Homo sapiens: one gene and its partner. The protein of the gene in region 1 interacts with the protein of each later gene in a biochemical or structural test. Each region holds a gene or a part of one and is shown on either strand. Other genes may lie near its edges.

What was found. Proteins that work in one complex are often made in the same cells at the same time.
Region 2: the proteins of IPCEF1 (region 1) and CYTH4 form a complex in vitro, tested with the Homo sapiens proteins (one study listed by BioGRID).

Annotation. Positions count from the first base shown.
Region 1 is NC_000006.12:154,157,057-154,164,979, reverse strand, and holds part of IPCEF1 (interactor protein for cytohesin exchange factors 1), read left to right. Parts: intron 1-4,939; coding exon 4,940-5,152; 3' UTR 5,153-7,923. UniProt on the Homo sapiens protein: Enhances the promotion of guanine-nucleotide exchange by PSCD2 on ARF6 in a concentration-dependent manner.
Region 2 is NC_000022.11:37,285,032-37,292,954, reverse strand, and holds part of CYTH4 (cytohesin-4), read right to left. Parts: intron 354-7,923; exon of another isoform or gene 335-353; coding exon 252-334; intron 1-251. UniProt on the Homo sapiens protein: Promotes guanine-nucleotide exchange on ARF1 and ARF5. Promotes the activation of ARF factors through replacement of GDP with GTP.

The sequences.
Region 1 (7,923 bases):
GCACTGGGATAGTACTGGAATGAATGCACTTCAGGGAAATTCTTCTAGGAAGTTGAGCAAACTTCCAAGTTGAACTTGAGCAAAAGTTGATCGTATTATGTTGTACACTAAATACAGATATTTAGGAATTTCTAACAGCTCATCATTCACTGACTTTTGGCTAAGTCTGCTTTTATTTTAAAATAAGTTATTAATGGAATGATTAATGGGTCCAACTGAAACTCTCTCTGAGTTACTCTGACCTATGTCACAAGAGCGGTGAACCCTTTCTTCCCGTAGCTACTCTGGTGGAACACATTTCCAATGCTTAGGTCTTGAGTCGAGCCACACACTGACTATTTGGAGTAAAAACTGAAAGTACAGCATTCTCTCTTTCATGGTATTTTTGGAATCCCTGCCAAACCTTGCTTGCCTGCCAGAAAGCAGAGCGGATGTTGTGAAAGTAGTTCAAAGCCCTCCAAAAGCCTCATGCGCCATCCAGGAGAAGCTGGGCTGCTGGATGAGGCCCAGCCCCAGGATGCCTGGTGTAGGAAGGAGCTTGGAAGGTTCTGTTGTTTCATTAATTTCCTTCTTCTGTATTATTGTCTACATTTTTTTCTTTCATCCATAGAAGAACTAACACAGATTTGAGCCAAATGGTAAAAAATTTGAACTACTTAGAGCCAAAAGCCATATGAGAAGTGTCAGCTTAATGCCCAAAGTTGAAGAGACCCTGTTCTAAAAATTTTATTAGCTATAAAGAGGGGTTAATTCATGTATGCAAAGTCAGTTTCCCCAATTTTTATTAATTTTCAAAGATCTTATTTAATTTTTTAATATGAAAAATTAGGATCTTCCTTTGAAGTAGATGTCTAAATTTCTTTAGAACAAAATAAAACTCTTTAAATAACTTTACATTAATAGCAGTATGGTGATATCAGAGGAAGAAAGCTTTTGTTGTTGTTGTTGTTTTGGAAAAGTTGTTTTGGAAGCATAGATATTGAAAACTCAGAAAGAAGAAATATGCTCTTTTGGCCCTGCCTAACTTTCTATAAACAATCCCTCTGCTTTCCTACTGCACTGTTTTTTCTCCATTTTGGAAGGAAGGATTCCTATCTTTATCCATCTATATGTCTATCTTCTATCTATCTATCTATCTATTAATATCTATCTATCCAGCTATTGATCTATGAATCTATGTCTAGTTTTTTTGTTTAATGGAAAGGATTTCCTCAGACTCCAAATAGGGTTCAGAATGCAAAAGAGAATAAAAAGCAAATTGGTAATTCATTTATTCATTTATTTCTTATTTTATATATTCATTTTTTCAACAAGTATTCAACGAATGTCTACATGTGTAAACAGTCTACATGTGCAGTCATTCTTTCAGGCACTTGGGGCTATAGCACTGGGCATGTCAGATAAAAAGGCCTGCCTTCCGGAAGCTTATGTTTTAGTAGGAGAATAAACAAACATAATTGACTATTAAATGTATAATATGATAAGTGATGATAGATTTGATAAAGAATAGAAAAGGGGATAGAACATGTTGAGGAATTGATATTTAATTAGGAAGGACATGAAAGGCCTCTTTGAAAGACATAATTTGTGTAAAATCTGAAAAAGGAAAGGGAATGAGGCTTGAGGTTCTCTGAGGCCGAATATTTCAGGCAAAAGGAACAAAAACACAAACACCTTGGGGCGGGAGTGTGCCTAGGGCATTTAAGGAAGAGCAAGGAGGTCAAGGTAGCTGTAATGTAGTGGGGATGGAGCATGGGGAGTGCAGCAGTGGGCTGGAGGGGCAGCAGGGACTCGAGCCATTGAGGATCTCATTGCCATTGCAAACACCAGCTTCTGCTCGGAGTAAGACAGTGACCCTCTGGAAGGTTCTGAACAGAAGGATGGCATGCTTTGTGTCATGTCTGAAGGTAGAACCATCAGCCTTTGCTGGTGGATTGGGTGTGGTAGAAGGAGTCAAGAATGACTCCAGTGTTTGCTCTGAGCAACTGGAAAGACGGAGTTACCATTAAGTGCTTTGTGGAAGACTACGGTAGGAACCGGGTTTGGTGTGCATTGGAAGTTGGTGGGGTGGGGATGTAGAGAATAAGAGGAACTTATCTTTAGATATGTTATTTTTGAGATGCCTCTTAGGGGTTGATGTGGAACTGCTGAAGAGGAAGTTTAGACAAATGATGATGGAGTCCAGGGAAGAAGTAAGGAGAGATATAAACTTGGGACCCTCAGCACATAGGAGAGTGGGAGAGATTTCTTGTGATTACCAACAGCATGAACATAGATAGAGCAGAGAACAGGATACAAGCTGGGGCTTTAGAACACTCCAGTGAGAAGAGGTGGCGTGACAAGGAGGAATCAGCAACTAAGGTGGGAGTAAGTAGCAATTGTGGTACAAGAAAAATCAGGAGAATGTATCATAGGAGCACAACAATGAAACTGTTCAAGAAGGAGGAGTAGTCAATTGTTTTAGGTGCTGCTGATAAATAAGTTGAAGATGGATCATTGGTTTAACATTGATTTAATGGTTTATTGGATTTAACAACATGGAGGTCACTGATGGTCTTCACAAGAGCAGTTTTGGTGAATGGTGGGGGCCAAACCCTGATGGGACTGAATCTATGCAGAATGGGCCACTGGAGACAGGAAAAAGTAGAGCATTAGCTGGACAGGGATTTGGGGGCAGAGAGGAATTTTAACATGCAAGAAATAACAGCAAACATGTGTACCAGTGAGACTGCTGGAGGGGATCTGGAAAGTTGGTGAGTCAGAGGAGAGAACAGAATTGCTGGGATGAATTTCTTGAGTAGGAGAGCGGGGGCCATTGTGCCCAAGTGGAGGGATTGGCCTTTACTAGGAGCACAGATGCTCCATCTCTGTGAACAGGGCAGAAGGCAGCATAGATTTGCATCCATGTAGTTCGTGGGCAATAGGAACTTGGGAGAAGTGCTCTTCTGATGGCTTCCATTTCCTCAACAAAGAGATAGCAAGGCCATCAGCTGCGAGTGAGGATGAGAGAGGGGGTTTGAGATGAGAAGAGTTTTGAAATAGTCATTTGGGAGACTGCCAGAAAAAGGATGTGAAAATGTGATGACTGGAGAGTAGTGAAAATCCACTTACTGGCAGTGGTTGTGAAGTTTTAGTTTCACACATGCTGTCCTGGGGATAGTCAAAAAGAGTAGTTCAATCACATGCATGAATTGAATGTCTACATGGCACTTGGCATTGCGTTAGGTGCAGGGAATACAGGGATGAAGGAAATGTTTCTTGTCATCTTCTTTAAGCTTTAGAAGAGGGGCCATGACTTACCCGTAAATACCTAAATGTACCTCGGTAAGTTCTCAGAGGGCATCATTGGAAGGCATGAGAACATAAAAACTTAAAAGCTTATCAGTCCAATTTTGGGAGTGCAGGGAAGGTTTCCTGGACAATGTGATGCCTCAAGTATAGATTTACGGGTTTTGAAAAATTGGGTAGGCCAGGTGCAGTGGCTCACGCCTGTAATCCCAGCACTTTGGGAGGCTGAGGTGGGTGTATCACTTGAGGTTTAAGGAGTTTGAGACCAGCTTGGTCAACATGGCGAAACCCCATCTCTACTAAAAATAGAAAAATTAGCCAGGCATGGTGGTGCATGCCTGTAATCCCAGCTACTTGGGAGGTTGATGCAGGAGAATCGCTTGAACCTGGGAGGCAGAGCTTGCAGTGAGCTGAGATTGGGCCACTGCACTCCAGCCTGGGCAACAGAGTGACTCTGTCTCAAAAAAAAAAAAAAATGAAAAGAAAAGAAAAAAATTGGGTAAAGAAAGACTGGAAAGTGTTCTGTGTAAAAGAAACTCTAGAAATTAGAGTTTATGAGGTGAAGAAAGGCAAGGAAGATTCTTCATGTGGCACAACAACACGGAGGTGTGAGCTAGTGTTGTGTGGGTGAGAAAATGCATGCCAGTACATTAGACTGGGAAGTCAAAAGGAAGCAGAGTATCAACAAATGGTGCCAGTGCAGGTGAGGAGCCTTGGGTGTAAGGGGATCCATGAGGGGGACTCGGCATTTACATGCATCCCTGCTCTGCTAAGTGGAGGTGGAGTTGAAGTGGGCATTGGAGGCAGTGGTCTCGCTCAGGAGGCTGTGGCAGCAGATCAAACGTGATATATTGAACTGGATATCCAACCTTAGGATTATGGTCATGGGATGGAGAAAACAGGCATAGATTTGAGATACAATTGTCAGGGCTGAATATTTGTTTTTAATATGGAGGATGAACATCTTATTTATACTCCATTCCTTGTCTATAGAAAACTCTAACCTGAGCTAGACATTTCAGAAATGTGTGCCATTGGTTACAGAGGAGGCAGAATGGAATAGCACCAATAGGTTGTTTATTAGCATTATTGGAATACATACTGTTTTGATGGAAGGTTAGTAGCCTCTTCTTTGACTGAAAAGATAATCTGTGTATTTATTCTGTATTAAATAAATGTGATTTATTAAAAATAAAGATAATTTAATAAAATCTTAAAAGACATATTTTATGTTGCCATATGTCCTAGGTAAAGTGTTACGTTCCAATTTTACTTAGTGAAGTTTGGATTGTCAATAAAATGCTAATACCTACAATGGTAAGTTTTAGGAGGCATGATTCCCACACCAAGGTAGAATTGTTACTGTGGTGTGGAATAATGGATTGATCAGGGAAAGGCAACATAGAAGATCTTTGCTATATGTCTAGCTCTTCCACTAACTCTTGGGTAGGATACTTCACTTCTTTGCGGCTAGCGTATGCAAACAAATGTCGTATTTCTTAAGCTTAATGCTGGAATTAGAACATTAACGTGCAAAAATGCTTTGGTAATTTTATGTATATGTGTACTTGTAAAAGAGTTGGTAAAGATGGTTTATGTAAATTAAGACACTCTCAACATACCCCCTTCCCCTTTTTTTCTACTCACACAGTGTAAAGAACATGATCTGGCCATGATTAACCAGTTGCTGGATGACCCGAAGCTGACAGCCAGGAAATACAGAGAGTGGAAAGTCATGAACACCCTGCTGATCCAGGACATCTATCAGCAGCAGCGGGCTTCGCCTGCCCCTGATGACACTGATGACACCCCCCAGGAACTCAAGAAATCACCTTCTTCTCCCTCTGTTGAAAATTCCATTTGAGACAAAGTCAGGGTTTTCTCCTCTTATATTTTATCACAAGCAACTCTTCAAGATGTTGCAAAAGCTTACATTTTTCCTTAAAAGGAAAACTGAAACCCAGTCCTTCAAGCATCAGCTTCCCATCTAAAGATGCACGTTAGATGAAGATAATCACCGAATACACCAGGGCTCCTCATTTCAGTCGTAACGCATCCATTGAGATTGGAATGATTGAGTTCAGTTGAAAGGCGTTTTTTGTGTTCCTACTGGGAGCTCACGGTGATGTGGGGCTCTAGGGGGGATGTGAGAAATGTCTCTTCTGTTCATTGCTCTCCAGAGAATGCTATGGACAAGAATCAAATTTTACCAGGAGTAATTGCCCATGGAAACATTCTGTTTTTCAAAAGAAGAATGTACATATTCCACTTGACTGGGAAGCTGTGTGGCCCAAATCACTGTTTGAGTGGAGGAATGTTTTCTAGAGCAGTGACTGGAAGGACAAACGTGGTGTTGCAGAACAAAAATTCCTTGCCTTTGGTATGGAATGGTGGTGCCTTTTCCATGTGATGAGAAATGCTTCATAGACAGTGGCATGTGGGAGAGCTGAAGGAGGAGGCGTGTTCCATATTCCACTCATTCAAAGGACAGCTTGGTGTTTTCACACTTTATGCAGGTTAGGGGATCTGATTAATGTTTCCTTTCCTTACAACAGCTAGAGAAAACATCTCATCACAATTGGAGACCTCTACTTCCTTTGAGCTTTCCTACTCAATGGTAGGAGATAGGAATATGTTCCGCAAAGAATGTCTACTGCTCTTGTCCTTGGCTGTGATCCCTATACATAGTGTGAATTTATATCCAGGTTTCCCAGGATCAATATTGACAAGACGACTTTGGCATCTGAATTGTTTTAATATCTTTACTCAAAAAAACAAAAAAACAAAAACCCATGGAAGCAACAAAAGAGTTAAACATGAGGGATTTATTTTTGTATGTTTATATGTCACTTGTGTGCTATGTGAATAGCTATGTTTGTTATTTAAATATATTTATAGAAGTTCAAATTACTAGTGTTTAAAAGATGATATACTATTATATATTGTGCTTAGTATATATTTGATGAGTCTATACTTTTTGCTTGAGAAAAATAGAAATACTATTGATTCACTGGTGTTATGATGTTGCACTGTGTCTGAGGAATGCTCAGGAAATCTTGTGGGAAAAAAATGGGGCATGCATTCATAATTTTTCATTTTCTTCCCCACCCCAACCCCCATGAGCTCTTAAATTTAGATTTCTATCTCTTGTAAGTCACTCTTTTAACCAGCAAAGGACTTTCATCTTAGATTATCCTTTCTATTAAATAAACTTTAAGCTTTGTGCCATTTATGCCTGCAAACCTTAGACCAAAGGCAACACAACTAATGTCATCTTTTCATTAAAGACTAATAGAAATTTAGAAATCATTGTGTTAAAGAGAGCTATAGAGAAACAATATGAAAGTCTTCCCTTACTAATCACCATGAATATTTCTCACCATAGGAATAACCACAACCCACCAAGTACCCATGTTGGCCCTGCCTACCCGTAACAAATTGTTCACACAACCTATTTTGTTTTATAGCTTCAAAGTGTGGCTTGACATTCAAATGGAAGGAACCACCTGAATTATATCTGCAAACAAAATGGAAATAGTTGTTGAATAGTTCCCCAAGCTTTACTAAGAAGCCTTAATACTCTGTAAACAAACAAACAAACAAAAAACAACCTTAGCATTAAGAAATAAAAACAAAAAACAAGAAGCAAGTTGTACTGCTAGAAACTTCTCTAAGATAAGAGGCCAGGCCAGTCAGTTTGGCCCAGCAAACATGTGGGTACTTCTCCACCTAGGGAAGCCACTGAAGATGAGTTTGACCTGTGGTGACCTGACAGAGAGAACATTCAGATCCTCAGATTGCACCCTGATGCCCTGGTTTAGGAAAGCAGTGCTTTAACCTTTTGCCCCTGGAAATTACTGATTCTTTCTGTGATTAGCAGATACCAGAAGGGAAATTATTTAGGATTGGCAATGTAAAGAGTATTGAAGGAACAACAAATAACAATAGCAGAAATAACAGTGTGACATAAAGTGCCCTTCCACCTATTTTTCTTTGGTTTGCAACACCAGCCTGTAGACTTCCAGTTTTTCTTAAATTGAAGAGCTCCAGACACTTTTGAGCAGGGTTTGTGAATAGCTTTGAATGCTTTCCTTTGGCTTTTCGTGAAGACATATTTCCCCAGCCTTTCAACTGTAAACTCCTTTAGTACCATTGAAACTTAAGGCAAAAAAGATCCCTGGGATTACTTAGCCAAGGCTTAAATTTATTTTTCAAAGTCAAGAACATTAGCCTAGAAGTTTTTGCTTTGCTAGTTAAAGCTTACTTTGCAGAGCTTCCCAAAGTGAAAGGGAAACTGAACTTCACAATTTTGCACCTGGCTTTCTGGAGCCCCATTGCCTGCTCATTCGTGTTTTTCCCCCTGTAAATTATTTTGCTTTTGACCAGGTTGTGCTAGAAAGTAGGGCTGCTTCTGTGAGTTCTCAGCCTAGGCTGTGGCCACTAAGACGTGGGTGGGGGGATAGACAGGAGTGAGAGGGAGAGTGGGTGACACTTTCCGTGACACTTAATGTAGGAAGACATGGGCTTCTCTCTCTTGGCCTCAAGCCACTTTTCTGGTCCAAAGAATATTGGGAAAACTGGATTACTTTCAGTATATTTCTTGAGACCGGGTCATCTCTGAAATGCATTTGGGGT
Region 2 (7,923 bases), on another chromosome or scaffold:
ATGAGGATCGGCACACGGTGGGCGCCTAATTGGATCGCTGCCTCCCTCCCCGGCTCTCCCAGTTCTCCCTGGGTCTCGGGGTGTCTGCAGTCTTGTTGTTCTCCCTGCTCCTGGGGCTGGGGCCGAGGCTGATATGAGCCAGAGTTGGCCACACTGTCTGTTGACCAGGCTGGGTCAGGAGCTGGTGGGGTGCGTACAAGCGTGCAGGAGTGTGGGCATGGACACGTGTGTGGACACGAGTGTGCACTCACCTGGATGTCCTCCAGGAGCTGCTTTCGGTGCCACTTGATCCTCTGTAACTCTTCCGTCTCCCCGCTGCTCAGCTCCGCGGGCTCTACAGAGAGACAACCGGCCTTCCCCATCACTTGGCTCCAGCCACACCCACTTGCCCTCACTTCTGCAGGGCCCCCTTCCCTCCGGAAACCCAGGACTTGCCCTATTCACAGAGGCCCACCTCCTCCAGGAAGCCTCCCCTGACTGCCCTGTCTAAAGCAGCCCCTGCTCCCTCCTCTCCTGCCCTGCTTCCTGTTTCTCCCACCCCCCTGGATAGACACCCCCAAAAGGATCCTGTTTCCTTGCATCTTTTCTGTCCCTCCCGCTAGACTCTCGGCTCCATGAGAGTTCAGTTGTTCTACTCTTTTGCTCACTACTGTGTCCCCAGCACCTAGAAAGAGTCTGACATGTCATAAGCACTCAGTTAAACACTCGCTGAAGGCACGCATTCCTTCCCCGGAACTTGAATCTCCTCCTCCACTGGCTCATGGGCTCATTATTTATTCACTTATTTATTTGAACAACCAAGAAGTGGTATACCATTTTCCTCACATCCCATTGGCCAGAATGTAGTCACGTGGCCACACCTAGCTGCAAGGGAGGCTGGGAAATGAGCCTGTAGCAGGGTGGTCCTGATGTCCTTACTGTGTAAAATGGGGAGGCTGGATTTGGGGGATATTTTATAGTCCCTGCCCCTGGATACTGGGGCTCAGAGAGGTGAGGTGACTCAACCCACAGGGAAAAGGTCACTGAGCCAGGATGGGACCTTGAATTGGGCTGACTCCAAAGCCTGTGCTCTTTCATCTCCACTTGGAAATGAATTAAATGAAATAAGATTTGTGTGTGCGGCATTCTATGCAAGGTGCTGTGATGATGCCCACAACTAGGTCAGCTGTCCTATCTTCATGCTTCATGGTGGCTTCTGTTTCATCCACAACACTCTCCTTCTCTGAGTAATATGGCCTCCCTATTACTCAGAGAGAAAGTCTTCATCCTGGGCCTGGGGCCTCCACAACCTCTCCAGCCTTGGCAGCCAGACTTATTCCCTGCCATTCCCAAAAAGAGCCTGCCAGTCCAGCCTGCCAGCTCCTTCCTGCTCCAGAGCCATCCAGGACTCAGTCCCACTTCCCCATGTTTGCCCAGGCCGCTCCTGTACTCTGGGATGCCTTCTCCTGTCTGCCTGCCCAAATCCTCGCTGACCTTCAAGTTCCAGCGTCGGGAAGTGCCTGGCCGCATTTCTTAAAGGTTTTACAAGGATAGACATCATTTCCTCCAAAAGAACACAGAGGGAATGTTGAGCGCTCCCTTTCCCTACTTCTCCTTCTCATGATTAAGCAGGCATTGTGGCTGTTGAGATTAAAGCCCCATGCGGAGATGCAGGGCACCAGGCTAGATGGAGCCCAGGTCCCCAGGCAGCGGTGTGGAGAAGACTCATCATGTTCACCTGGCCCACCTATCCATTTGGACTTTTCAATAAGAAATAAATCAGTTTTGAGAATGTTTCGGTTGCTGTTATTCTGAGTCTCTTTAAGCAGCTAAATCTGAGATATACCTAATACAGCATCCTCATCTGTGAAATGTGAACCATAACCCTTGCCTCACAGGGCAGCTGTCAGGAAGGAAAGAGCTACACTTTGTCAAACACCCAGCAAGAATCCAACATATGCTGAGTCCCACATGTGTGCAATGGGTGCTGTGTGCATCTGGCTCTTCTCTTCAGGACCAAGGCACCATCCCCCCAGCTGCTGGGAGGAAAGCCTGCTGATGGCTCACAGCTGAATCCCTCCCCAGACACTAGCCTCAGCCAAAGGGAGGTGCCACGCCCAGGAGTTCCCCTGACCAAGGGCAGCCACTGCAATAAAAAGCCAAGTCCCGGTCAGGCAAGGTGGCTCACGCCTCTAATCCCAGCACTTTGGGAGGCCGAGGCGGGCGGGTCACGAGGTCAGGAGATCGAGACCATCCTGGATAACACAGTGAAACCCCATCTCTACTAAAAATACAAAAAATTAGCCAGGCATGGTGGTGGGCACCTGTAGTCCCAGGTACACCGGAGGAGGCTGAGGCAGGAGAATGGCGTGAACCTGGGAGGCGGAGCTTGCAGGGAGCCCAGATCATGCCACTGCACTCCAGCCTGGGCAACAGAGTGAGACTCTGTCTCCAAAACAAAACAAAACAAAACAAACAAAAAAACCCAAGACCCCTTGCCTGGTTTCAGGACCTACCCCAGTTTTCAGATACAGAACGTCGGGACTGAAGGAGAGGCTGGGTTCCAAGGGAAGAGTCCTGCAACATTGTGGCAAGTATATATGGCAATGACTCCCTGGTTCCACATTAAAACACCTGTGGCCATTCACTCCAACAACTGTACACTGGGGAAAGAGCAATATCCAAACATTCTGAGGATTGTTGGACACAGGATCCAAGTTGACATCAGCGCTCAAGACTGAAGTGTCTTCAGGGCCACATTTGAGTGGGGGTACATAGAGACCAGGTGGTAAATGAAGTCCTTCCAGGTCCAGCTCACTAGGGGTCTGCTTGATTCATGGCCACTTTCCTGGCCTACAGATGTAGAATTGGAATGGACATCGCTGGTACTTGAGCCCATATTGGTACCTTGGCCCATGGGGTCAGGATCATTGTAGTGGGAATAGCTATTTGGAAATTTATGAAGCTGACCCATCATCCCCACAGCGAAGAGACTAAATAAAAAACTATATCCTGAGGGGAATGGCAGGTGTGGGTGCCACTCTTGAGACCTAACGGATGCAGGAGCAATGGCCCTCATCACATACCCAAGCACTTCCCCGGTCGGGAGGATGGCCTGCTCCTTCCAGCTGCTTCCTTCTAGCAGAGAATTATATACTATGCAGAAAACAGTTCCTGGAATGGCACCGGGTCCTGGTAGAGATAGAGTGCCAGCCCACGGAACATCATGTAACTAAGTAGCTCAGATGGCTCCATCTGTCCCACTAAGTCAGAAGGTCAAGCGAGCCCAATAGTAACCCTTTGTGAGTGGTACGTCCAGGAGCAGGTGTGAGCAGAGCCAGAGGGCTCCAGTAGGCTCCAGGGATAGGTGGCCCAGATCCTCATGTCACCGCTGCTGGTGGACCAGGGTCTATCCCTCTGCTTACACCGTGACCACATGGGTGGGTCCCTTATGACTTTCTAACAACAGAGGAAAATGCCCAAGGCTGGTTGCAGAATGAGTTGGCTCAGAGTTTGGGCGCAAGTGAAAACCAGGCAGCTACTGAACTACAGTCCTGCTCAAAGGTGTCCTGGAAAGACAGTGATGAGGGCAAGTCCTCCCAGGGGGCAGGGCTTCAGGCAGGGCACCTGGCCATCCACTTCCTGTGGAAAGAGAAGTGACTTCTTGAAGTCAGAATATCCATGCATCATGGGCAGTGGTGAATGGCTTGACTTCTTGGTCAGAGGCAAGAAAGAAGGAAGATGGGAAGATCAGAAACACAGATGTCAGGAGAAGAGGCAGGTGGATGACCCCGTGGGAGCGGAATGTCCACTCTGCCAGCAACAGGGACGCATGCTGAGCCCATCTTTTCTCCAGAAGACCAGGGGGCAAACTGATTCCATGAAACCCCTTCTATTCTGCAAAAGTCAACAATCCATCTTGTCTGGAGTCGACACGTGTTGGAAATGTGTTTGCCTTTCCTGCCCACAGAGCCTCAGCCAGCACCACTATCCAGAGGCTTAGGGTGTTTGACCCACCAACACAGCACACCACATAACATCACAGAAGACCAAGGGATGCTCTCTACAGCAAAGGTGGTCTGAAGTGAGCACGTGGCCATGAGATCCACCGATCCTCTCTAGCATTTCATCGGAAGGTGCTGGCCGGATGGAATGGAGCCATGGGGCGGTCTTGAGAAGGTACAGCTGAGGTGTCAGCCTGGAGGTGATATCCACTTGGATGGGGCGCCATCCTCCAGGAGGCACCATATGCCCTAAATCTACCACCACTGTGTGGTGCTCTGTCTCCAGCAGGTGGACCACAAGGGTCTACGAGCTGAGGGGTAGGAGTGGGAGTGGCCCCACCTGCCATTCTCCTAGTGACCCACTCTGGAGTTTCCTTTTTTTTTTTTTGAGACAGTCTTGCTCTGTCACCCAGGTTGGAGTGCAGTGACATGATCTTGGCTCACTGCAACCTCTGCCTCCCAGGTTCAAGCGATTCTCCTGCCTCAGCCTCCCCAGTAGCTGGGATCACAGGCATGCACCACCATGCCCGGCTAATTTTTTATTTATGTATTTATTTTTTTGAGACAGAGTCTCACTCTGTCACCAGGCTGGAGTGCAGTGGCACGACCTTTGCTCACTGCAACCTCTGCCTCCCGGGCTCAAGGGACTCTCCTGTCTCAGCCTCCTGAGCAGCTGGGACCACAGACATGAGCCACCATGCCCAGCCAATCTCTGTATTTTTAGTAGAGATGGGTTTCACCATGTTGGCCAGGATGGTCTTGATCTCTTGACCTCACAATCTGCCCACTTTGGCCTCCCAAAGTGCTGAGATTACAGGCGTGAGCCACCGCACTGGGCCAATTTCTGTATTTTTAATAGAGACGGGGGTTTCACTATGTTGGCCAGGCTGGTCTCGAACTCCTGACCTCAGGTGATCCACCTGCCTTGGCCTCCCAAAGTCCTGGGATTACAGGTGTGAGCCACTGTGCCCGGCCCACTCTGGAGTTTCTTTCTGTCTCTGCAGGTCTAGAGGTACTGTTTCCAGGAGGGAGTTGGCGGGGACACTTATACCAGGGGACAAAGCAAGAGTCTTATGACCCGTTAAGCGCACAAACACCTACTCCATGCCAGTCTCTGTATAACTGCTGTCATTTAACCCTCTTTGAAGTAGGTATTTTCCAGTTTGAGACACTGAGGCTTAGGAAGGCGAAGTGACTCGCCCCAGGTCTCATTCACAGGAAGTGGCAGTGCTGGGAACTGCACCCTTGTTTGCTGACCCCCACGCCTCTGCCCCAGGAGAGGTGGATTCCCAAACTGCTTGGGACATGCAGGGATGGAAGGTGTAAGGGGCCACCTGTGTGGAGATGCAGAGCAGGGACAGCCGGGGAGGCAGTGCTGGAAGCTGGCTCCGGAACTCTTCCGGCAGGAGCTGGCGGGGAGGCCGTTGGTCTCATCCATGGGAAAAAACCAATCACCTTGGGTTGCCTTGGAGGTGAACAATCCGATTCTGTTTTGTTTTGTTTGTTGGCTTTATACAGTTTTCCTGTTGGCTTGGGGTTGTGTTTCTGCCCAGGGCGCACCTGCTGGAGGAGGCTGAGTGGATTCCAGACTGGCTGCTTGTCTGAGAGAAGCCAGGGTGGGCTCCAGCATTCCTACAGATGCTCCAAGGTGTGGATGGCCAGAATTGAGTGATGGGGCTCCTGAAGCTCCTCCTAGGCCGACCTTCCTGGTCCCCATGGGGCTTCATCAGCTCCTGGCTCCCACCTGCCTTCAGGGTCCAGGGAATCATTCACACATCCTCTGTTCCAGCCCCTTCTCTGAGCTTCAGATCCAACCATCCCCTATGTATTGGTCACCACCGCTCTTGTCATTGTGCCCAAAATTGAACTTCTAGAATGCCCCCTCCTCCCCATCCTCTTCCTGAATTCCTGAGCTCTGGAAATGGTCCACATTTCCCCAGGAGGCACTCTGACTCCCACCTGGCTGTCACCCCTTGGGTCTCCTCCATCACCAAGTCCTGTCTATTTCTTTCCCCTTCCATGGCTCCACTGTCATCCCAGCCGCTATCGCTTTGCTCAGGGGGACTTCAGGGCTTTCGGATGCCTCCCTGCCTCTTCTACCCATTCTGGTCCAGTTTCCCATGGCATCCCATTGTCCTGGGGACAAAGACCCCAAATCTCACCAGTCCTGCTGGTGTATCCCCTCCATGCTCCTCTCACACTGTGCCCCTCCCCGTCCCAGCTCCGTGCTCTGCCTCCCTGGCTGCCCTTCATTCACTCCCCTGAGCTCTAGCCTTCCAAAAGCCTTTGCACCACCATTCCTTGTACCCAGAACGCCCTTCCTTCTCCTCTCTGCCAGCAGCCCCTCCTTATCTCCTACTTCAGATCCCTTTTCAGGGGTCCTCCTGGGTTCCATCTAGGAGCCATCCCTGCCCCCACCCCTTCCCATTCCCCACAGCGTTTCTGGGATCTGCATGGCTCAATAACCAAGCCACGCCGTTGGTTAAGGAAGGCATGGTGGCTGAGCACCCATGGTGCGCCAGGCCCTGTGTGATCCAGGCTCTTCCCATCCACTCTCATTGAATCCCACAACCACTCCGAAAGGAAAGGTACTTCTAAGCTCATCCTACAGGTGAGGCCCCTGAGACTCAGAGACGTGAAGTGTCCTGCCAAAGGTGACACAGCTGGAGGGTGGCAGAGCTGGGATTCACATCTGGGTCCATCTGGGGCTCGGAGGCTTACAGCCCTGATGTTGATCTTCCGAAGGCTGATCTCTCCATACGAACCATCAAACACCCGTCGGACGCTAAATCTGGGTTTCTGACGGGGTTACACGTTTCAGAATAAAGGCAAGATGCAGAATGATGCCTGCAGTTGCCCCCACCCAACCCCTGCAAAGCCAACTTTGCAGAGCTGGGGAAACTGAGGCACGGTTCCCAGGGGAGTGGGATTGCATGGGAATAGTGAGCAGGTTGCTTGTATTTTTACTGCATACAGCTCCTTTCATACTCCCTTCTGGTTGACAAGTGTGTTCGTGAATCCTCAGTCCCCTGTCCCCTTCTGACGGGGGTCCTGTCCCGAATAGGTGGCAACTGGTCAAAGCATCTGAACCCACATGAGGGTGATGATGGCCCCGGGCTTGCTGTGTCTTACATGGTGCACACGGAGCCTACTGACCCTTCCTCTATTTGTTAAAAAGAGGAGATTCCTCCCCATTTCAGAGTTTCAGGCACCGGTGTAGGCTCATGGGATATGTTTTTTTGTTTGTTTGTTTGTTTGTTTGAGACGATGTCTCTGTCTGTTACCCAGGCTGGAGTGCAGTGGCCTGATCTCGGCTCACTGCAACCTCCACCTCCCAGGTTCAAGTGATTCTCCTGCCTCAGCCTCCCAAGTAGCTGGGATTACAGGCGCCCACCACCAGGCCCGGCTAATTTTTTTTTGTATTTTTAGTAGAGACGGGGGTTTCACCATGTTGGCCAGGTTGGTCTCGATCTCCTGACCTCTGGTGATCCACCTGCCTTGGCCTCCCAAAGTGCTGGGATTATAGATGTGAGCCACCATGCCTGGCCAGGAGATGAATTTTTAAATACTAATAATAATACACACAAATAATAAAATTACCACCACCACCACCACCACCACACACCCCGTTTCCTTCTCACTTATCTCTGTGCTTCTCACAACCTCACAAGGTGTGACATGAACCCCCACCCCAAGCCCACAGGCTGGTGCTGCCCTTGCGCCCAGGCTGGTGAATGTGCCCATCTCCCCGGCTCCTCCCCACTTCCTCTTTGTCCTTCCTCTTTCCCATCGTATTTTTAGAAATCTTTGAGCTTGCAGCCCTGCTTCCAGGACAGCTGGCCTCACTTCCCCTTTCCAGGGCAGGAGGAGGATGCCATCTCAGGGCCCTAAATAAAGAGGCCCCTCAAAGTCTCAGTAGGAGGGACCCTGGGGCAGAGGG